Homo sapiens: one gene and its partners. The protein of the gene in region 1 purifies or fractionates together with the protein of each later gene. This does not show direct contact. Each region holds a gene or a part of one and is shown in the gene's direction. Other genes may lie near its edges. The genes, in order: LTV1, NAP1L4, POC5, NOP14 and DDX10.

Evidence for each region.
Region 2: the proteins of LTV1 (region 1) and NAP1L4 fractionate together in Homo sapiens (co-fractionation; one large-scale study listed by BioGRID). This does not show direct contact.
Region 3: the proteins of LTV1 (region 1) and POC5 purify together in Homo sapiens (co-immunoprecipitation; one large-scale study listed by IntAct). This does not show direct contact.
Region 4: the proteins of LTV1 (region 1) and NOP14 purify together in Homo sapiens (affinity purification with mass spectrometry; one large-scale study listed by BioGRID and IntAct). This does not show direct contact.
Region 5: the proteins of LTV1 (region 1) and DDX10 purify together in Homo sapiens (affinity purification with mass spectrometry; one large-scale study listed by BioGRID and IntAct). This does not show direct contact.

The regions. Positions count from the first base shown.
Region 1 is NC_000006.12:143,849,531-143,854,255, forward strand, and holds part of LTV1 (protein LTV1 homolog), read left to right. Parts: intron 1-600; coding exon 601-688; intron 689-4,725. UniProt on the Homo sapiens protein: Essential for ribosome biogenesis.
Region 2 is NC_000011.10:2,953,635-2,958,359, reverse strand, and holds part of NAP1L4 (nucleosome assembly protein 1-like 4), read left to right. Parts: intron 1-2,593; coding exon 2,594-2,616; intron 2,617-3,713; coding exon 3,714-3,833; intron 3,834-4,725. UniProt on the Homo sapiens protein: Acts as a histone chaperone in nucleosome assembly.
Region 3 is NC_000005.10:75,689,438-75,694,162, reverse strand, and holds part of POC5 (centrosomal protein POC5), read left to right. Parts: intron 1-1,662; coding exon 1,663-1,767; intron 1,768-3,600; coding exon 3,601-3,780; intron 3,781-4,725. UniProt on the Homo sapiens protein: Essential for the assembly of the distal half of centrioles, required for centriole elongation. Acts as a negative regulator of centriole elongation.
Region 4 is NC_000004.12:2,952,902-2,957,626, reverse strand, and holds part of NOP14 (nucleolar protein 14), read left to right. Parts: coding exon 1-21; intron 22-815; coding exon 816-957; intron 958-3,063; coding exon 3,064-3,203; intron 3,204-3,981; coding exon 3,982-4,116; intron 4,117-4,725. UniProt on the Homo sapiens protein: Involved in nucleolar processing of pre-18S ribosomal RNA. Has a role in the nuclear export of 40S pre-ribosomal subunit to the cytoplasm.
Region 5 is NC_000011.10:108,670,746-108,675,470, forward strand, and holds part of DDX10 (probable ATP-dependent RNA helicase DDX10), read left to right. Parts: intron 1-2,721; coding exon 2,722-2,782; intron 2,783-4,725. UniProt on the Homo sapiens protein: Putative ATP-dependent RNA helicase that plays various role in innate immunity or inflammation. Plays a role in the enhancement of AIM2-induced inflammasome activation by interacting with AIM2 and stabilizing its protein level.

The DNA.
Region 1 (4,725 bases):
TAAATGGAATAATTTGCTAGAGAAGGCATTGTGATGTATTATAGAGAGTTACTTTTGGGTTTATGATGGAATATACATGTTTAACATATATACAACCTGGAGCACAGGTGAGAGAACACAGAATGTAGTTGTAATAGTTTCCTAGGACTGCAGTAACAAATTACCACAAACTAGGTGACTTAAAACAACAGAAATTTCTTCCTTCATGGTTCTGGAGGTCAGAAGTTTGAGATGAAGGTATCAGCAGGTTTGGTTTTTTTCTTGGGGGCTTAGAGGGAGAGGCTGTTGAATGGCTCATTCCTAACTTCCGAAGGTTACCGGTGATCATTCCTTGGAATTCCTTGCCTTATAGAGGCCTCACTCCAGTCTGCTGTCATCTGCACATGGCATTCTCCCCTGTGAGTCTCTGTCTTCATGTGGTCTCGTTATAGGACCATGGTCCAGTAAGACCTCATCTTATTATAGTTGAGAGGACCCTATTTCAAATATGGTCAGTCTAAGGTTCTGGATGGACATTGATTTGGGGGGGACTTCAACCCGGTACACTAGTTAAGAAGAATTTCCAAATAAACCTAACCATTGTGCAATTTCTTTTTCAAGAGCACTGGAATTAAGTTGCCTTCATCAGTGTTTGCTTCAGAGTTTGAGGAAGATGTTGGATTGTTAAATAAAGCAGCTCCAGTTTCAGGTATTTTTAATTGCTTTATCTTTTCATATGGATAAATGTATTTTGCAAAACATAAAGAAATGATGTAGGATTTTTCTATCCCCAGTAAAGTATTGAAACAATTGAGATATGTCTGGAATTCAGATCAGGGATTATTAGGAAGGGATGAATGTGATCTTTGTATTTTTGTATTCCTACCATCAAATCTTTATATCTTTTGAGTTCCTGTTTGGAGAGGAAAGTGGGGAAACTATTCTTGGTAATCTAGTTAGGGGAATTGTAACCTTCACATAACCTCTTGCAAAGATAGTGGTATTAATTATTCATTACTTGTAGTGTAATTTTGAAAAATAATCTGTTTTTCAGAATTTCTCCCCAGAGCATACAGGTATTTTTATGGAAGTTCATTTTGCCATCTACACATATATTGGGGGAAATTTTTTATTTTTAATTTGTAGTACCAACACTGTATTTCAGAACAAACACAAAAGTCTACAGAAGTGGTGTTGGTATTTTCTCCCAAGTTGCCTTAATTATTAACTAACACCTGTCCTGTGGCATTCATTAATTAATTTATTGTACAGATTTTTGAGTTGCCACTGTCTGTGTGGCAGGGCCTTGGGTTAAAACAGAATAAAGCATAGTCTCTGACCCAAGAATTTACCTCATTTGGGAAAAATAAACAATAAATGATAAATTACAGTATAGATGGATATTAATAGTGGGGTGAGTAGCACCAAACCCAGCATCACAGGGTTGGGCAAGGCTTTCTAAAGAAGGTGATATCTAGTTTGTTTCTTAAGTAAAAGTTAGGTAGGTGGAAGAAGGAGGGGGAGGGGTGGGGACCAGAGGATGTTCCAGACAGAGGACTGTATGTCCTAAGGCAAGAGAACGTGAATATAGGTAACTATACACATTTTAGCCTGCCCAGAAGGAAGGGTATGGATTAAAAAGAAATGAGGCTGGAGGGTTAAGTAATGGCCATGTAGCAGAGGGTGTTGGAGGCCATGTCAGATGATAAATTTGGAGTTGAAAGTTTTTCATGAACTTGAGTTTTTTGTTTTCATTTTCTGCTCCTTGTGGAGCAGGGCTAAGTCCTAAGCAGTGTGCCCAGAGTCAGCCTAGTATATTTATAGATGGAAGAACATATCTGAAGAAACAGGTAGGTATTTATTAAAATCGCAAAGTCAGAAAATACTGAAAGTATAACAGTCTAAAAATTGTTCGAGTTATTTTTAACAGGTGAATTTAAAGGCCAGTTTCTTCTTGCAGACAAAAGCTTTGAATTATGCTAGACAAAGTTAAACATTATAGATGTTTAATGGAACATTATTTTCACCAGTGGATATTAAAAGGAGAAGCATCATTTCTTTTTTCATTTTTTTTTTTAAATTATACTTTAAGTCCTGGGATATATATGCAGAATGTGCAGGTTTGTTATGTAGGTATACACGTCATGGTGGTTTGCTGCACCCATCAACCCATCATCTACATTAGGCATTTCTCCTAATGCTATCCCTCCCCTAGGCCCCCATCCCCCAACAGGCCCCAGTGTGTGATGTTCCCCTCCCTGTGTCCATATGTTCTCATTGTTCAACTCCCACTTATGAGTGAGAACATGCGGTGTTTGGTTTTCTGTTCCTGTGTTAGTTTGCTGAGAGTGATGGTTTCCAGCTTCATCCATGTCCCTGCAGAGGACATGAACGTGTCCTTTTTTATGGCTGCATAGTATTCCATGGTGTATATGTGCCACATTTTCTTTATCCAGTCTGTCATTGATGGGCATTTAAGTTGGTTCCAAGTCTTTGCTATTGTGAACAGTGCTACAATAAACCTACGTGTGCATGTGTCTTTATAGTAGAATGATTTATTATCCTTTGGGTATGTACCCAGTAATGGGATTGCTGGGTCAAATGGTATTTCTGGTTCTAGATCCTTGAGGAATCGCCACACTGTCTTCCACAATGGTTGAACTAATTTACACTCCCAACAACAACATAAAAGCGTTCCTATTTCTCCACATCCTCTCCAGAATCTGTTGTTTCCTGACTTTTTAATGATTGCCATTCTAACTGGCGTGAGATAGTTTCTCATTGTGGTTTTAATTTGCATTTCTATAATGACCAGTGATGATGAGCTTTTTTTCATGTTTGTTGGCTGCATAAATGTCTTCATTTGAGAAATATCTGTTCCTATCTTTTGCCCACTTTTCAATGGGGTTGTTTGTTTTTTTCTTGTAAATTTAAGTTCTTTGTAGATTCTGGATATTAGCCCTTTGTCAGATGGATTGATTGCAAAAATTTTCTCCCATTGTGTGGGTTGCCTGTTGACTCTGATGATAGTTTCTTTTGCTCTGCAGAAGCTCTTTAATTTAATTAGATCCCATTTGTCAATTTTGGCTTTTGTTGACATTGCTTTTGATGTTTTAGTCAAGAAGTCTTTGCCCATGCCTATATCCTGAATGGTATTGCTTAGGTTTTCTTCTAGAGTTTTTATGGTTTTAGGTCTTACGTTGAAGTCTTTAATCCATCTTGAGTTAATTTTTGTATAAGGTGTAAAGAAGGGGTCCAATTTCAGTTTTCTGCATATGGCTAGCCAGTTTTCCCAATGCCATTTATTAAATACGGAATCCTTTCCCCATTGCTTGTTTTTGTTAGGATTGTCAAAGATCAGATGGCTGTAGATGTGTGGTGTTATTTCTGAGGCCTCTGTTTTGTTCCATTGGTCTATATATCTGTTTTGGTACCAGTACCATGCTGTTTTGATTACTGTAGCCATGTAGTATAGTTTGAAGTCAGGTAGTGTGATGCCTCCAGCTTTGTTCTTTCTGCTTAGGATTATCTTGTAAATTACTTTGGGCAGTATGGCCATTTTTATGATATTGATTCTTCCTATCCATGAGCATGGAATGTTTTTCCATTTGTTTGTGTCCCCTCTGATTTCTTTGAGCAGTGGTTTGTAGTTCTCCTTGAAGAGGTCCTTCACATCCCTTGTAAGTTGGATTCCTAGGTATTTTATTCTCTTTGTAGCAATTGTGAATGGGAGTTCCCTCACAATTTGGCTCTCTGTTTGTCTATTATTGGTATATAGGAATGCTTGTGATTTTTGCACATTGATTTTGTATCCTGAGACTTTGCTGAAGTTGCTTATCAGCTTAAGGAGATTTTGGGCTGAGATGATGGGGTTTTCTAAATAGACAGTGATGTTAATCTGCAAACAGAGACAATTTGACTTCCTCTCTTCCTATTGGAATACGCTTTATTTCTTTCTCTTGCCTGATTGCCCTGGCCAGAACTTCCAATACTGTGTTGAATAGGATTGGTGAGAGAGGGCATCCTTGTCTTGTGCCGGTTTTCAAAGGGAATGCTTCCAGCTTTTGCCCATTCAGTATGATATTGGCTGAGGGTTTGTCATAAATAGCTCTTATTATTTTGAGATATGTTCCATCAATACCTAGTTTATTGAGAGTTTTTAGCATGAAGGGGTGTTGAATTTTATCAAAGGCCTTTTCTGCATCTATTGAGATAATCATGTGGTTTTTGTCATTGGTTCTGTTTATGTAATGGATTACGTTGAACCAGCCTTGCATCCCAGGGATGAAGCCAACTTGATTGTGGTGAATAAGCTTTTTGATGTGCTGCTGGATTTGTTTTGCCAGTTTTTTATTGACGATTTTCGCATTGATGTTCATCAGGGATATTGGCCTGAAATTTTCTTTTTTTGTTGTGTCTCTGCCAGGTTTTGGTATCAGGATGATGCTGGCCTCATAAAATGAGTTAGAGAGGAGTCCCTCTTTTTCTATTGTTTGGAATAGTTTCAGAAGGAGTGGTATCAGCTCCTCTCTGTACCTCTGGTAGAATTTGGCTGTGAATCTGTCTGGTCCTGGGCTTCTCTTTTGGTTGGTAGGCTATTGCTGCCTCTATTTCAGAACATGTTATTGGTCTATTCAGGGATTCCACTTCCTCCTGATTTAGCCTTGGGAGGGTGTATGTGTCCAGGAATTTATCCATTTCTTCTAGATTTTCTAGTTTATTTTCATAGAGGTGTTTATAGTATTC
Region 2 (4,725 bases), on another chromosome or scaffold:
TAAAATAATTTTGGTCACCTGATAGATTCCTAACACCCAGAGACTTTAGTCCTCTTTTTTCAGGCAAGTGTGGTCAGTAGGGGCACATTGCTGTGTCCCAGGCTGTTCTGTTGGTGCGCTGGCAAGTTTATCGCGGGGGGCAGAGGTAGCTAGGACAGTAAGAGTAGGATTGTCATCTTCTGCAGGAAAGGGAAGAGCTTTACTCTGCTTGGCTGTAGCCCAGGCAAAAACTTGCAGTTCTGTTTTAAGAAAACTGAATCGAGTATTTGCACCTGGGCTGCTTCCTCACTTGGACACCTGGAGCACCCTTCTCCACCAGCTGGCATTTCTGCCCCGCTGTTGTGTCTGGTTCGCACCCCCCGGGGACCACTCCCAGCCTCGGAGAGCTGCTGGGTTTGCTCTGCAGGTACCCGTTACTGCTGTACGCTGGTTCTAGTTGTGCTGCTTTTGGATCATCTGCTTAGTCCCCCTTTTCTTGTAATTTTTTATGCATAATTTGATAGAATTTTTTGGAATTTATATATTGTAAGAAACACAAGTAGTTGGGACTTTCATTTTTGAAAAACATCGGCAGAATCACAGCTTGGAAGCTGCTTCTTTTTGTTTATTTATTTATTTTTTAAATTTTCCTAAGTGGTAAAATAAAGATGAGACCTTTGAGCTAGTAAAGGTTGACCAATTGATTTTAAGAGTAAATTTCTTGGGATTTTTCATATAATTTCCTAATCGCGAGAAAATGTGAAGGTCAAGCAACTTGTCAGTGTTAAAATATCCATATTCTCTTTAGTTTCCATGAACTAAAACATAATTTGAAGTGAAGAGATGCCAGCCCCTGCTGCAGATAATCAGTGAGTGTTTGTTTGTATGTGGGGCCACAGGGCGGATCTCTTCTCCAGTCTGAGTGATTGATTTTTTGATTTTGTCTCTGAGCTTAGCACCCTTATTTATCAAGCTGCCCTTCAGAGTTCAGTCCATTATTTTAATTGTGGTGCCTATTTTCTGCAATTAGACTTTGAACCTAGAAGATGCAAATACATACGGTTTGGGGAATGAGAGCAGTCATAAATTTAGATATTACATTTCCTTTTTTTGGAAGATTCCTTTTAGACACTTGGGTTGGGCATACTGGAGATTGTCTGTGAATTCAGCGTGAAGAAGGGAGGCTTTAATTTCTGGAATCACTTTGTGTAGGAAGTTCTCTTAAAACTGATTTAAAAATAATTTTTAGGATAAAAATGGAGTTGATAATGGACTCAAGGGAATTTTTAAGTGTTTTTTTTTTTAGATTCTAAAACTTTTAGGGTATGATGGTTGCACAACTCTAAAATTAACGTACTGAAAGTCATAAAGTTGTACATTTAGAGTGTATGCCTTTTAATGGTATGTAAATCCCATCAGTAAAGCCACTTTTAAAGTAATCAAACACATAATACCAAATGGTAAGTGCTTTGAAAAAAATTGAGGATGGCTGCGGAATAGGTAATGGGGTAGTGAAGGAACAGACAAAATGGACTCCTGTGGTGTGAAGTGAAGGAGGCATTAGCTAGTGAGTCCAGCTCCTTTGTCCTTAAAACTGCAAAGCCAGTCCAGAAGTATGAGTGTTCAGAGTCCTTGTACTATTCATGACTTGGGCCAGAGTGCCCTGGGGAGCATGCTGCTCCAGCATTTAGACACCCAGCCATGCTCCTAACCCATGTCTAAAACCCCTGGGTGATGCTGGCACACCGAGGCTTGGGAACTCTGCCTCACTCATGGGTGGTGTTTACGCACCCAACATTCATGTCTCAGCAGCAAACAGCAAGTGCTGCCAGGGTTGTGGTCGCTTAATGGGAAGGGAGACTCAGAGAGGAGAGCCCAGTGAAGATTGAAAAGGCAGGTATGAGACTAAGCAGAGTAAACATTCAACTCCTGATGAAGCTCAGGGTCTTGTAGTAAATGTTTCTAAAATCAGGGGGTTGGATCTTCTACCAGTTGAACGTTGCACAGCTTCATTGAGTGTGGTTAGAAGTCCCTATCTGTCTTGGTGGGCTTAGCTCGTCTGAGCATCAGCTTTCGCTGAGGAATTGCGCCACTCTACAGGGGCCCCTGGTGGGCATTCCAGCACTCTCCAAACAAACAGAAATGCAGTTTCTGTCTCGCTGATTTGCAGTGCCTTAGTAACACTCACAGCTTATAAGGCTTAAGGACTTTCTCTTTCCTGCACCATCATGTATAGTTCTGCGGGACATGAGTTAAGTTTCCCCATAAAGCACAAATGCACTGAATGGCCACAGCCTGGGGGCTGTTTGCCATTCCTCCTGTTAATATATTAACTCTCTCAAAATGATCTTCTCAAGCTTGAGTGCCAGCCCATGGCACATGATGGAGGAGGAGAAGGGAGGGGGGCATAGAGGCACTCAGGCCAGCTTCAGAAGTGGTGGATGGAGCTTGCAAAGATGTCTGTGAGGAGATGCAAGGCTTTGGGGATTTCTGTTAAACCTCGAGGTGAGAAATGTTACATTTTATCTACCAGCACAGCTTCCTCCTGTGTGGGCTTTAAAATTCTGGGAGTTGTCACTGTAATTTAAATATGTTTTGTCTTTTCTTTTTCTAGCATCCGGGGATGGAGAATCACTGGTAAGATTTGTTGTTAATAGTCTTATTTTCCTGTTGAAGTCTCTCCTGAGTGAATGTCTACTTGTCTACTTGTTAAAAAAAGTCCAGTCCTGGCTGTGTGTGGACTGGGTATGCCAGTGATCTTAATGCTTTGGGAGGCTGAGGTGGGAGGACTGCACGAGTCCAGGAGTTTGAGACCAGCCTGGGCAACATAGCACAACCCCATCTCCACAAAAAATTAAAACCAAATAAATTAGCCAGCCGAACATGGTGGTTCACGCCCGTAATACCAGCACTGTGGGAGGCCAAGGTGGGTGGATCACCAGAGGTCAGGAGTTCAAGACCAGTCTGGTCAACATGGTGAAACCCCGTTTCTGCTTAAAATACCAAAAAAAAAAAAAATTAGTTGGACACGGTGGCAGCGCCTGTAATCTCAGCTACTCAGGAGGCTCAAGCAGGAGAATCACTTGAACCCGAGAGGAGGAGGTTGCAGTGAGCTGAGATTGCACCACCGTATTCCATTGGGCGACAGAGCAAGACTCCGTCTCAAAAGATAAAATAATAAATTAGCTGGACATGGTGGTGCACTGTGTAGTTCCAGGGTCGCTGGGGCCCAGGAGCTTGAGGCTGGAGTGAGCTGTGATTGCACCACTGCCCTCCAACCTGGGTGATAGAATAAGACCCTGTCTCTTAAAAAAAAAAAATCCATTTCTGTTTCCTAAAACTCTGGGATTAATTTGAAATCATTACACATCTAAGTAAAAGTATGTGTTTCATATGTTGATTTCAGTAGCAAATGTGCAGTGCTTTAATACTGCCTGTTTCCCATATGTGAGACTGATACCGCCTACTCTGGGTGAGACCTTTGGACAAGTTGTGGAGCTGTAGGGCCCTCACTTCCCACTTTCTCTGCCATTTTGCTTCAGTAGCTCTTTAAAGCTACTTAAAGTTGTTTTAAAGGGGCTTTGAGTGTCTAGTGGCTGTCCCCCAGCAGTGCAGGAGTTTGGTGTTTTAAGTTAAGTAAATCAAAAGTGAGGGGCTGAGGTTTGGCTGAGGGTGGTGAAGTGAATGTTTTTATCCCATTAAAATGAGTTAACACGTAGGTTTTTCCTCCTCAGGATGAAGATTCTGAATTCACATTAGCCTCTGATTTTGAAATTGGACACTTTTTCCGTGAGCGGATAGTCCCGCGGGCTGTGCTGTACTTCACTGGGGAGGCCATAGAAGATGATGACAATGTATGAGGCTCGGGGAAGGGGGGCTTCCACCTGGGTGCTTATCTCTGTTGGTGCAGAGTGGCCCTGAATTGTGGCTTAGGAAACCCCCATGCCTAATCTTTTTATTACATCATCAGCCAGATATGTAGTCCAAGCTGCTGTCCTTGTTGTGGGGGGAATACGCTTGAAGAGGAGAAGTCTGAGGAACAGAGCAGGAAAAGCAGGTGTCTGTGAAGCAGTTTCAGAGGTGATTGCCAGTTTCCTATGTGAGCCCTGCCTAGTGACTCAACAATATTCTCTCAAAACCTAAGCTTCAGGGAACTTGTGAACACAGGGAATATCTCTTTTATGGAGGTCTGGCCACAACAAACATTTATTGACAGTGGACTTATGCTAGCCTGTGGTTCATCAACCCAAAAGAAATAGAAATTCCTGAACTTCTATCTAATTAGGTAAAAAGGAAAAAAAAGAAACCCGTGCTCCCGAAGAAAACAACAAGATTGCATGTCACTTTCCTTTCTGGGCTTGAGGGAAGCCAGCTCTTCCACAGTCAGAACTTGCGGGTGCACAGCCCAAGTACCGCTTAGAAACTCCCATCCTCACCAAGGCTCAAGCAGCTTCAAGTCTTCTTGATCTGTGGAAAATAAAGTTTTGTTTTATAGACTGTTACTGGAAGTATGTTCTAGATGATACTCTCTTTCTTGTGGAGCTCTTAGGTTTCTTTTCTTAGAAGGTCTGGTCTGTTGGGGCTTCAGACAGGGCGGCAAGAGCTTAGGTGGGTTCAAGGGCCTTAGCCCCCTGTGGCAGTAAAGGCCAACATCTCCTCACACCTCTCCCATTGTACTGAGTTCCACCAGTGGGGAGAATAGGCCAGCGTGCTCTTTATCAGCTGTTAGGTCTTAGACTGTTCATT
Region 3 (4,725 bases), on another chromosome or scaffold:
GTTGCCCAGAGTGGAGAGCAGTGGCTATTCATAGGCATAATCATAGCTCACTACAATCTCAAACTCCGGGGCTCAAGTGAACCTCCTGCCTCAGCCCCTGCCAGGGACTGCAAGTGCATACCACCATGCTTGGGTTTAAGCATCTCAAATTCTATCTGTGATGGATGTGTTTTCATTAATGAAGGCTTTCTTCATTTTATTGATAAACACAGAAAACATCTTTTATTTCACTTTCCTTTAGCTTCTTAAGAATTCGAGGGTAAGATTCAAGTCTGTGCTAATTTTTTGCCTCCTGACACAGTACCTGGAGCAAAGCAGATGGGCAACAAATCTGTGCCCGGCTATAAATGGATGTCCGGAGGGGCATCCACTTATGGATAGGAGAGTGGTGTTGTTCAGAAGAGGAGGACTTGGGCAGACACCTCAGCTGCTTGTCTGCAGAAGTAGCACTTAAGTGTTTTCATGAATTAAAGATTATAATTTTTTTAAACATACCTTGATTTCGTATAAAATTGAACATTTTATAGAATTTTTTTTGAAACAATGGATTTTAATGTCAGTCATTTTCTTTGTTATACTCAAAATTCTGTCCCATGGTTTTTAAGTTTAATTTTTTTATTTTGAAGTATCACAAAGAATATAGATATCATATGTTCAGTTTATGAGAATGAGTAAAGTGGATAGACAGGTACTACGATTCAGCTTAACACATAGAATATTTCCAGTAGCTTAGAATGTATGCCCTTTTCCTCTCTGGAAATTATTTAAAGAGCAGTTATAAATATCTCTTGGTAAATGTGCCCAATTTACAAAATCTCTTTCTAATGTGACTATTTTTAGAAATTTATTTCAGTTATTCAGTTCTTTTATAAGAGAGAATATTATCTTAGGATTTTAAAGCCTTCTGAATTTTTTTTTAAGAACAAGAGTAATAATATCACTGAAGAAGTACATCAACATATAACATTAATAACATTAGTTATATATAATGTTATTAATATGTTATATGTATAACATTAATTATATATATTTACTTATATATATAACATTTTATGTATGACATATGTTATATATGTTATTAATAGTTATATGTATAACATGTTATTAATAGGTATATATAACATATATAATATATAGTTATATATATAACTATAACATATTAATAGTTACATATATAACTATTATTTGCTTTTATAGGTTTGTTTAATCCAGAAAATCATTGGACAGTCGTTGAGGAACTTCTATATCCAAGATAGTAGTAGGGACCAGAAAGATATTTAAATATCTAAATATTCTGGCCCCTGCCCTCAAATCTAGTGAATAAAGACATGGTGTATATAGGAGAACTTTCAAATGTATAATTGTTTTACCTGAATTGAATGTCAGTAGCTAATTTGCATATACATAAACTTTTTATTGGTGATTACCATATACACATAATGAAGACTTCCTTCTTCTTTTGTTCCCTTTCATTAGTTGATATCTAGTATATTCATGTGAGAAAGTTTTACCATCTTTTTAAAGATAATAATGAGGTTAACTGAATGAATATAGTAGTGATCCATACCTATCCTCTCTAGCATTTTTTGATATATGAGAAAATCACTTTACCAATTGCTGTTATTTTAATATCACAATAATTGGGTTAATTGCTGTTTACAGGTGATTTCTAGCTTGTCTCATGCCATAGGCAAGCAAAAGGAAAAGATAGAGTTGATGAGAACATTCTTCCACTGGCGAATCGGCCATGTCAGAGCCAGACAGGATGTAAGTGTCAAAGCAGAAGACAGCTGATGGATGTTAGACTTCTGAATTCAGAAGTGCTCAGGATCACTTATTATAGTTGTTTTCTAATAAGTCAAAATGAATTTGTGATTTAATGTTCCTCTTATTTCAAAGGAATTTGATTTTGATGTAGTTTGGAAAAAATACAGTTTAGATCTTATTGACATATAATATATATATATTACAATAGATACATCATTTCCTGCTTCATAGTAGGTTAATAAGGATTGTTCCTAAATTGTAAAGGCCCTGGTAATAGAACCCCCTCAGATGTGGTTATTGGAGAAAGAAGTTATGTTTAACATATCAAATGCTTCCTATATTGTTTCTACTTTTAAAATGCCTGAATACAACTTATTCATAAAGAGGCTTTACTATATTTATACATTAAATCACAGTATAAATGTTTGTTATGTAGACTTGCCTTAGAGTGAGAGTCAGAGAAAGCCATACCTGTACAGCTTTTTAAAAGTTATCCTTAGCTTGTAGTATATCATTTAAACTTGAACATCTTTTATTTTAAGTAAGAGCTGAGTTGGTATATCAGTAAATAGTGAACTGAAAGAGAATACTAAATTGTTGTATCAAAAGTGGAAAAGTATGAGTATATCCCACAACAAGACATAGTTTAGAGACACATGAATATAGGAGATGAATATATATATATATGCTTTCCATGTATATTCATGTGAGCTATGGAATAATCTCTGTGTATTTAGTTTCCAAGAGATTAGTATTTAAGGAAAAAGCTAGTACAGGTTGAGTATCCCTTATCCAAAATGTTTGGCACCAGGAGAATTTTGGATTTTAGATTATGTTTCATATCACACCTTATGCACAAAATTCATTTATGTTTCATATTTCACCTTATACATATAGCCTAAGGTAATTGTATACAATATTTTTAATAATTTTATGCATGAAACAAAGTTTGTGTTAAGTACTTCTGTGTGGAATTTTTCACTTGTGGTGTCATGCTGACACTCAAAAAGTTTCAGATTTTTGGATTAGAGATGCTCAACCTACTTTATCCTGGAATAAGATTTCTCCTTTAAGAATACTTTCTGGATTTTTCATTTTTTTAATTAATCCCAGTAGATTAAATCCACATTAAGTAAGCTGGTTAAAATGAATATTTATACTCTACTTTGAAACTTGTCAAGTGAAATAATGAGAATACATATTTATTTTTAAATGTTAGCCAGAATAGTTGAGGCTACTGTCACTTTTGGATAGTTTTTCAAACTGAAGAAATTGAGAATTGGAACTACTTCTTCAAAAGAATTTAAATTCATTGATAAAAGAAAAATAGCATAAGTTTTTATTTGGATTGGCACCATATATGATGGCAGGGTTTATAAATTAAATCTTGCTTGTGGTGGCCATCAAACTGAAGAGAAAGCAGTGTCATCTGAAGCCACAGCCACCACCATTTCCTGCCTTCTAGCCACTCTGTTATTCTCCTGGTCCTGCTAAATTCATAACTAAGATGGCAAGTGGTGATTTGCTCATTTTCTTTCATTTGGTTGTATTCTTTTTCTCTAACTTGATTAGTTGCATAAAGCAATGATGTAATGGATAAGAGCTCAGTCTCTGGAGTCAGGCAAGTCTGGCTTTACTCATCTACTTATGTGAACTACGTAGCTTGCTTAACCTCTCTAAGCCTGTTCTCCTATATGCAAGATGAGAATAATATGATTACATAGAATTAAATAATGTGTATATGTACACTTACCACCATGTTATGTTTATTATTACTACCAATATATTTATCAATCAACTGTGTTTTTGAAGTTATATTTTACTTTTATTTAGGTTTATGAAGGTAAACTAGCTGACCAGTACTACCAGAGAACTTTACTGAAGAAAGTCTGGAAAGTCTGGCGTTCCGTAGTGCAAAAGCAGTGGAAAGATGTGGTAGAAAGAGCTTGTCAAGCAAGAGCTGAAGAAGTTTGTATCCAGATTTCCAATGATTATGAAGCCAAAGTTGCTATGGTAAGCATCTTTTTCTGGTTTTCACTTTCTTCTAATACAATAAAAAGATAGATAGACTCACTATTAATTAATAGACTTCTTCTTTTGGTCTTTAATCAAGAATGCAGACAAAAAAATGAAAACGTTTATTCTTGTGTTAATTTAATGTTTATTGTATATTCTTACATGGTTGATATAAGGAGTTGTATAGAAATTGAAATTATTAGTTGGGCGCGGTGCCTCACTCCTGTAGACCCAGCACTTTGGGAGGCCGAGGCGGGCAGATCACCTGAGTCAGGAGTTTGAGACCAGCCTGGTCAACATGGTGAAACCCCGTCTCTACTAAAAAAATTAGCTGGGTATGGTGGCACATGCCTATAATACCCGCTACTCGGGAGGCTGAGGCAGGATAATCTTTTGAACCTGGGAGGCAGAAGTTGCAGTGAGCTATATCACACTGTTGCACTCCAACCTAGGCAACAAGAGCAGAAATCCATCTCAAAAAAGAAAAAAAGAAATTGAAATTATTTTTTCCCATTGACTTTTAATAATAAAATTAACATTGTTTTCATGGGAAAACATTTGGAATTGAAATGAAATAAAATCCATTCTAAAGAATGCAATAGGCCTCTTGAAGTTAAATATTAAAATGAAAAAATAACTCATTACAGCATTAAATTGTTAAGATTAAAAATAAATCCATAATACAAATAATTTTCTGCAGTTCACTACGACATGCAAAAAATGCAGTCCCCTGAGGTTTGGCCTATGGGAAAGTGTGTTGTACCTAGGGTCACTCTGCACTTCAAATACTGAAGGTAACATTTACATTATAAAAATTCTGTTAATATTGCAGGCATGTAGTTTATTTTATTTTTTTCTGAAAGGGCTGTCTGTGGCTCTTAATGTATTTTGTTTAACATCCTACATAAAAGTTTTACAGTAAAAAATGGTGTATCTTTTTGT
Region 4 (4,725 bases), on another chromosome or scaffold:
AGGTTTGCTCTGGAACAGCAGGTATGGAAAGAAACTGGAGGAGGGTTTTTGCTGTACATTTCACAGGGAAGTCAAGGCCAAGGAGAAGGCTGACTCTGCATGTTTTGCATGTTCCTGGGCACTCGGAAGGTCCAGGGGATAGCCCTCGAATCCTGTGCCTTATCTGGCTAGGCCAAAGGAGAAGCAACCTCTTCTGCAAATGTTAGCTGAATGGATAAATGCCTTAACTCTACTACACGGCAGCAGTGTGCACAGGAGTTCTCAGCTGAGCAGCATTGCTGGAGTGGAAACTGGCCCCTGGGCTTATTTAAGAATTCCCCTCCATGAGGCCGGGCGCGGTGGCTCATGCCTGTAATCCCAGCACTTTGGGAGGCTGAGGTGGGTGGATCATGAGGTCAGGAGATCGAGACCATCCTGGCCAACGTGATGAAACCCCGTCTCTACTAAAAATACAAAAATTAGCCAGGCGTGGTGGCGCATGCCTATAATCCCAGCTACTCAGGAGGCTGAGGCAGGAGAATCACTTGAACCAGGGAGTCAGAGGTTGCAGTGAGCCCAGATCACTCTACCGCACTCCAGCCTGGGCAACAGAGCGAGACTCTGTCTGAAGGAAAAAAAAGAATTACCCTCCATGAGTTTCATTTCTGTCTGAATCATGAATCATTGCTTAGTTGACCCAAAATACTCTTTAAGGCTGCTTAGGATTCGTTGTCATATTTCAAATATAATGGAAATATATATATCTACCTTATCTTTTTTTTTTTGCTGTGAAATGGAAGTGGTAATTTTAGGAAACTTTTTTTCTCTTCTGTCAGCGACATCATGAGAAAAAAAGCATCTACAATCTAAATGAAGATGAAGAATTGACTCATTATGGCCAGTCTTTGGCAGACATCGAGAAGCATAATGACATTGTGGACAGTGACAGCGATGCTGAGGATCGAGGAACGTTGTCTGGTGAGGCTGGGGTGCTGTGCACGGGCCTGTGGGCGTGGAGTCAGGGAGAGTCTGTTCATTGTTAGACCTTCTGCTCTTCTTAGAGACTAGAGAAAGTTATTGCATGAAAGTTTTACTGATCATTAACCTCTCTACAAATTTCACAAGTGACAGTTTTTATGTATTTTTGTTTTTTTTTTAAGTTTTCAGAACTTTAAGATGGTGTGTAGATAGATGCTTTTATGGGCCAAGAAAGCATGTTGATATCCATTATTTTATTTGAACCTCAAAATAGCTCGTTCTACCCATGAGCTCAGAGAAATAAGGTGTTTTGCCCGATGCCAGAGTCAGAGCTGTGGGGAGAACCCACCTCACTGACTCCAGGTGCCTCACTGAATGCACTACTTTGCTCCCCCTACTTTATCAATTCCAGCCTAATATTTGTACCAGTGGCATTGATGTAGTTCCTTTAGCTTTTACCTACTGTGGAATTATAGCAGTTTGAGGAAAATCATATTGAGCCTCATATCTGTAGATAACAACATGAAACAGATAAATTTTGGCCTTAAATAATGTTAACAGAGTTTAAGATTCAGTTCGGGTCTGACTGTCTTGAACCCTATTTATAAGGTTGCAGTCATGACATCAATTACTTGACATTTCTTGTAAGTTAAAGTAGGTCCCATTTCCAGCATCTTCAGAACAAAGGTGTACAAATCTAAAACTGACTCTCAAAGCTTTGTCTTGTCAGTGTGTGAAAGTTAAGGCGTTAAAGCCTGGGGCTGCCTTCTGATATTTGGCTAATCCAGGGGGTAAAAGGCTTAGGAATTAGGGCAGCAAGCATGTGGTGCAGAACCCGCCATCTGCGGCACACCAGGAGGCCCCGCCACTGCTCGGCTTCACGGGCGTGAAGAGAATGGCCAGTTATTTTAACCCCTCTGTGCCTTTGTCTTTGCTCTTTTCATTGTTCAAGACTTCTCGTGGACCCTTAGCTATAAAACGCATTCCCTGGGGAGATCCTAATTCCCCGAGACTGGAGGTAACTGCCTTGGTGTGAGTTGGGCGAGTGGCCTTCCCCTCATTGCCAGGAGGCGCTGTGGCGCAGGTGACTAGAGGGGGCGCCGTGGCGTGCAGGTGACTAGAGGGGGCGCCGTGGCGTGCAGGTGACTAGAGGGGGCGCTGTGGTGCAGGTGACTAGAGGGGGCGCCGTGGCGTGCAGGTGACTAGAGGGGGCGCTGTGGTGCAGGTGACTAGAGGGCGCCGTGGTGCAGGTGACTAGAGGGGGCGCCGTGGCGTGCAGGTGACTAGAGGGGGCGCCGTGGTCCAGGTGACTAGAGGGGGCGCCGTGGCGTGCAGGTGACTAGAGGGGGCGCCGTGGCGTGCAGGTGACTAGAGGGGGCGCTGTGGTGCAGGTGACTAGAGGGCGCCGTGGTGCAGGTGACTAGAGGGGGCGCTGTGGCGTGCAGGTGACTAGAGGGGGCGCCGTGGTCCAGGTGACTAGAGGGGGCGCCGTGGCGTGCAGGTGACTAGAGGGGGCGCCGTGGGGTGCAGGTGACTAGAGGGGGCGCTGTGGCGCAGGTGACTAGAGGGGGCGCCGTGGCGCAGGTGACTAGAGGGAGCGCCGTGGCGTGCAGGTGACTAGAGGGGGCGCCGTGGCGTGGAGGTGACTAGAGGGGGCGCCGTGGCGTGCAGGTGACTAGAGGGGGCGCCGTGGTACAGGTGACTAGAGTCTCCAGGCCCTGCCCAGGGAGGTGGGAGGGACACAGATTGCACCACTGATCCTGGGCGACGCTCCCACCAAGACCCTGGAGTCAGCTTGCTCTGGGTTTGCCAGTCTTCGCTAGAACCAGCACAATCAAAAATAGGTGCTGGGTGTTTCCAGCCACTTGGGTTACGGCCAGTTGGGAGTGTAATGGGTCTGGGTTTTCTCAGAGTGGCTTACCTTGGGTATTTCTCAAGTGCCATTGTGCCTGTGGTCTCAGGCCAGGCTGTTGCGTGTGAGCATTTTTTTCTCAAATGTGGACTTTTCCAGACCACTATGGGGGAAGCACTGGCAGAGTGCTACAGGAAACACTTCCCACGCCAGGGCTGGGCTTCACTGTGGGGTTTTCTGCCTTTTGCCCCCAGCTGAGCTGACTGCTGCCCACTTTGGAGGAGGCGGTGGGCTCCTTCACAAGAAGACTCAACAGGAAGGCGAGGAGCGGGAGAAACCGAAGTCCCGGAAAGAGCTGATTGAAGAGCTCATTGCCAAGTCAAAACAAGAGAAGGTGGGTTAGTGAGTGTTCTTGATCATCTTCTCCACGGTAAGACAGGCTCACCAAAATGTGTTTGAGCTTTTTTTTCCTGTACCTTTTTAGGCTGTGTTTAATATTTTATATGAGTTCAGTAAAAGCATTTATTGTGAGTAGGAATTTTAAAAATCACATAAAGCATATACCTCGGACAGGTTTTGGTTCTTTTGCCTTTTTTTGGTTTATGTTTTGTTTTATTTTGAGACGTAGTCTCTGTTTCCCGGGCTGGAGTACAGTGGCACGATCAAAGCTCACTGTGGCCTCAAACTCCTGGGCTCAAGGATCCAGTGATCCTCCCACCTCAGCTCCCCAAGTAGCTAGTGGGCGCCACCATGCTCAGCTAATTACTTTTTGTAGAGATGGGGATCGTGCTGTGTCGACCAGGCTCAAGCAGTTCTCCCACCTTGGCCTAGTTCTAAAGCACAGGGTGGGCCACTGCACCTGGCGCGGATGGGTTTTTTGTTGTTGCTGGTTTTAGTATCTGACATGTGCCCAAAAAATCACTTTTTTATTCATTTGCAGTGAACTGCTCAGAGCATCTAAATTAATGGTTTATGGCAGGAAAAGATTTCCGTCTGATGAGATTTGGTAGCTTTGCATTTAAAATACTCATTTCTCCTGGCCTCTTTTCTGTGTTGAAACGTTTGGTGCCAACTGAGTGATCACTGTGTGTGTCCTTGGCACTGACATTGGGCCTCTGGGTTGAAGTCCAGTAGTAACGGTATGTGGTGTGTGTCTGTTATTTTTTCCCCAGAGGGAGAGACAAGCTCAACGAGAAGATGCCCTCGAGCTCACGGAGAAGCTAGACCAAGACTGGAAAGAAATTCAGACTCTCCTGTCCCACAAAACTCCCAAGTCAGAGAACAGAGACAAAAAGGAAAAACCCAAGGTGGGAGCCAAGTACTGAAACAAACTCTTCACTCACTGAGCTTGGGTGACCGACTTTCTCCAGAGAAAGGGCTGGGGCTGGACGGCTCTTCTACCTGTCTCCTTTAGGGCAAGTTTCTGTTGAACATTGATACTGAATTACCTGCTGTGTGTAATCTTGGGGTGGAAGTAGATTCAGTTACTTGAGTCTCTATTGCAGGTGAATTAAACTGAAAAAAGTGGTGTTTCTGGATGGAAGAAGTACTTCAGGGTGGACACGTTAGAATAGGTGTCTGAACTTCCCTGTGACATGTTTGTCTGTTGATACATAATACATACATTTAATATACATTTACTTATTTTTGCCTCTGTAAACAGTTGTTTCCTACTGCATTCTCTTTAGTCGAAACTATTGGAAAATGCTGCATTTGTTTAAGAAACTGCGTTCTCAGAGAAGTCTAGATCCCAGCAGATTAGTGTCATGTGGTCATCTGTGCATCTTTGTCAGTCAGCCTTGATGTTACCGTTACTTTACTTAGTTTCCCACGTTTAGGGCGTAATGCCTGGATAAGTAGCGTTTTTGTTGTTGTTTGAGACGGAGTCTCGCTCTGTCACCCAGGCTGGAGTGTAG
Region 5 (4,725 bases), on another chromosome or scaffold:
ATTCATTTAGACTGTAATCAGCTGTACTGCATAGAAACTGCATTCAAATCCTGATTTTTTTTTTTTAAATCAAAATTTGGTCTGGTGTAGTTGAGGCGGTTTGCTGTTCTTCTCTTGACGGCAACAGGTGGAGCATTCTAGGGCGTTTCAATGCTTTTTTCATCAGGCATTATTCACTTTAGCGAGAAATAGGCATTACCAGAGAGTTGTGAGAAGTATAAGAGGATGGTCAAATGTCACCCTTTTCTCCTCCGCTTTTCAACTTTTCCAACAGCCGTGGGAAGCCTTTAATAAGGACCATCCCTGAAATATCTCTTCCCTGAATTCAGAAGAATAGTGAGACAGATTTGTAGACTGAGTATGAGTATTATGGAGATGTAAGTGATTTTTCCCCCCTAAGAAAGGGATAAAGGGAAGGAGAAAGAGTTATTTTTTTGAGGTAGAGTCTCGCTCTGTTGCCCAGGCTGGAGTGCAGTGGCTCTATCTCTGCTCACCACAACCTCTGCCTCCTGGGTTCAAACGATTCTCCTGCCTCAGCCTCCCAAGTAGCTGGGATTACAGGCGCACGCCACTGCATCTGGCTAATTTTTATAATTTTAGTAGAGACAGGGTTTCGCCATGTTGGCCAGGCTGGTCTTGAACTCCTGACCCCAGGTGATCCGCCTGCCTTGGCCTCCCAAAGTGTTGGGATTACAGGCGTGAGCCATCGTGCCTGGCTGGGTTATTTTCTTTGTAGGAACCGTAGCCATCTCCTGCTGTGGCTGCTATGTAATCCTTGGAATATAACAGAATATCTAGAGCAGGGTCAGCAAACTCTTTTTCTGTAAAGGGCTGGATAGTCTGTGTTAGGCTTTATGGTCCATACAGTCTCCGCAACAACTACATAGACAATAAATAAATGAATTATTGTAGTTGTGCTCGAATAAAACTTTACTTACTAAAATAGGCAGCAAATTGGATTTGGCCCGTAGGCTGTAGTTTGCTGGGCCCTATTTTAGAACATCAACAGAATCAAAAGTTCCTTTTCTTCGTCTTCTTTTAAAGAATATGGCGCCTGTAATCCCAGCACTTTGGGAAGCCGAGGCGGGTGGATCACGAGGTCAGGAGATCAAGACCATCCTGGCTAACACGATGAAACCCCGTCTCTACTAAAAATACAGAAAAAATTAGCTGGGCGTGGTGGTGGGCGCCTGTAGCCCCAGCTACTTGGGAGGCTGAGGCAGGAGAATGGCGTGAACCCGGGAGGTGGAGCTTGCAGTGAGCCAAGTTCGCGCCACTGCACTCCAGCCTGGGCGACACAGCGAGACTCCATCTCGGAAAAAAAAAAAAAAAAAAAAAAAAGGAATATGGTATATAGTTTTCTGTTGTAATGCTTGATTGAAGAGTGTTGGAGCAGTTTCATTCTTCTAAACTTTCCCTCCAGGAGGTTAACTGACTTTAGGAAGATAGATGTGCTGTGCAATGTTTTGTTTGAGGAGCTCGCTTTGCCTGTACTGTGTCTCTTGCTGGGGATTGAAGAGTGTGTTGGCAGCCTGCCTCCTTCTGTAGGCATTCCATTCCCTTTGAAAACAGCTTTTTAGCTGATAATACCACGAGTGCTAGAGTGAGCTACACCTAATTTTAATGCCTTGTTTGGAAGATTATCTTCTAATTGAGGTTCCTTGCTGGGACAGTATGTTATTTGAATAAACCGTTCTTCTAATGCTGGTACACTGATTCTGCCTCCTTTCCAGTGATATCTGAAATGATTTGTAGGGATTAAGACAATGTTTTAATATTTGTATTTTCAGCATTGGAGGGCACAGAGTAAACACTGCCTGGGCAATGTTAAGAATCATAGGAAAGATGTGTAGATTGTAAAATGAAGTACAACTGTCATCCTTTTACTGCCTAGAGTGTAATTTAAATAAATGAACCATACAAATGCAGCTTTTTCCTTTTGCGAATCATGTATAATTTGGCAGCATATTTCCAGAACTGAGCAGTAGTTCCTGCCTTCAGCATCTGTAATAAAATAATTCTCCTGAGCAGCTGAAATGAAATTCAGAAAATTGGGTTTGTGCTAATAAAGAACATCAGTAATGAATATTTGAATAATGTAAAGTTAGCAAAATGTTACTTATTGTGGCTTCAAAGCATGACAGACATTTCCCCTGTGTTGAAATAATACTCCTCCTTCAGTAACCCCAAAATGAATAGTTATCAGGTTGGATTTCATAGGCCACTGATTTATGGTTAAAACTTTGAAAGGATTGTGCTAACAAGAAATATTTCTCCAACTAATTTCACTCTTTTTTCCAAATTGTGTGTATAGAACTATTTTCATTGTGATCTGTGGTTTGTGGTAATTTTGTCCTTGTTTCTTAAATTGAGATCCCTTGAAGGATGATAGGAAGTAAATTTTCTTCCTAAAATTGATGTGGTTGGTGATGCTTTACTGTGTTCAACATTTTGGAGGTCAGATAGTAGTATGTGTGGTGTGTGTGTATTGGGTGACTTTTTTTTCCTTACCAATTGAAATGCTTACAAATGTATATTCGATTCAGGGACAGCCTCTTCAGGGCATATTTCGTTACAGAAGGAATGATGGCTTTTAATTAGAAGCGATGATTGAATTCAACCCTGAATTACCAAGGATGAGCTGGGCAATACAATGTAGAGAAGAAATGGCTGTGTCGTGAAACAAATGAGTTACCCTGATTCCTTTTTCTTTTTTTCCAGATAAATGTAAATGAAATCACAAGATTTTCAGATTTTCCCTTGTCCAAAAAAACATTGAAAGGTAAGTATATGGTGATCTTGGGATGTGTTATTGGATTTCTTGGCATTTTTGATAAATGGGAGAAGATTTAGAGGGTTTAGCCTGAAAAATCTTATTTTGGCAAATTTTGATATCATGAAAACCAATGAAAATAAGCAATATTCAAGTTTTAACAGTACGTTATTCTCATTCTTTCTGGACTAATTAAAAGAAAAACAAGTTTCCAGCATCCTCTGAATAAAATGAAATCTAATTTTGTTAGTTAAAATAAGCAAGGGAACAAACCAAGATGCAACACCCTTTGTATCTGTTTGCTAGGGCTGAGATGACAAAATATCAGACTGAGTGGCTTAAACAACAGAGACTGATTTTCTCACAGTTCTGGAAGTTGGAAGTCTGGGATCAAGATGTTGGTGGCATTGGTTTCCTCTTAAGGCAAAATAAGGGAAGGATTTGTTCCAGGCCTCCTTGGCTTGTGGATGGCTGCCCTCTTGCTGCCTTTTTATTTTTGGATACATAAAAATTGTATATATTTGGCCAGGTGTGGTGGCTCATGCCTGTAATCCCAGTACTTTGGGAGGCCGAGGTGGGTGGATCACAGGGTCAGGAGTTTGAGACCAGCCTGGCCAACATGGTGAAACCCCGTCTCTACTAAAAATACAAAAATTAGCTGGGTGTGGTGGCGGGCACCTGTAATCCCAGCTACAGGCTGAGGCAGGGGAATCACTTGAACCTGGGAGGCGGGTTCATGCCACTCTACTCCAGCCTGGGCAACAGAGTGAGACACCGTCTCAAAAAAAAAAATTGTATATATTTACAGTGTATACATGATGCTTTGAAATATGTATATGCTGTGGAATGGCTAAATCAAACTAATTGTATATGTGCTAATATTACCTCATCCTTTTGTGTTTAGAACTCTTAAAATCTACTTAGTATTTTTTCTTTTTTCAGTATATTTTAATTAACTATAGCAGTATATATTAAGAGAGATATATAATAGATCTCTCTTTTTTTTTTTTAAGATAGGGTCTTGCTCCGTCACCCAGGGTGCAGTGCAGTTGTGTGATCTTAGCTCACTGCATCCTCAGCCTTCTGGGCTCAAGTGATCCTCCCATCTCAGCCTCCTGAGTAGTTGGAACTGCAGGTGCATGCCACTGTGCCTGGCTAATTTTTAAAAATTTTTGGTAGAGATAGAGTTTTGCCATGTTGCCCAGGCTAGTCTTGAGCTCCTGAACTTTAAGGAATCTGCCTGCCTTGGCCTCCCAAAGTGCTGGGATTATAGGCGTGAGCCACCACGCCTGGCCTACAATAGATCTCTTGAAGTTCTTCCTTCTAACTGAAATTTTGTATGTTTGATGAACATCTTCCCACTCTCCTTACTTCCCCCAGCTTCTGGTAACTACCATTCTACCCTCTGCTCCTTTGAATTTGGCTTTTTTAGATTCTACATATAAGTGAGATTATGTGGCATCTTTATTGCTGTGCCTGGTTTATTTCAGTTAACATAAGGTCCTCCAGGTTCATCCATGTTGTTGTAAATAACAGGATTTCCTTTTTAAAGGCTGAGTCATATTCCATTTGTGTGTGTGTGTGTGTGTGTGTGTGTGTGTGTGTGTATGTGTATGTATATAACATATATTTTCTTTACTCATTCATGGACACTTAGGTTGATTTCATATCTTGGCTTCTGTGAATAATGCTGCAATGAACATGTGAGCACAAATACTTTTCAAAGTAGTGGTTTTATTAATAAACCCTTTGGATTATACCCAGGAGTGGAGTAGGTGGATCACAGAATAACTTGTCTCTCTTCACATGGTTTTCCCTCTGTGCATGTGGACCCTTGGTGTCTCTTTGTTCAAGTTTCTTCTCATAAAGACACCGTTTGTGTTGGATCAGAGTCCACCCCTATGGGGCTCTAACTTAATCAACCTCTTTAAAGGCCCTGTCTCCAAGTATAG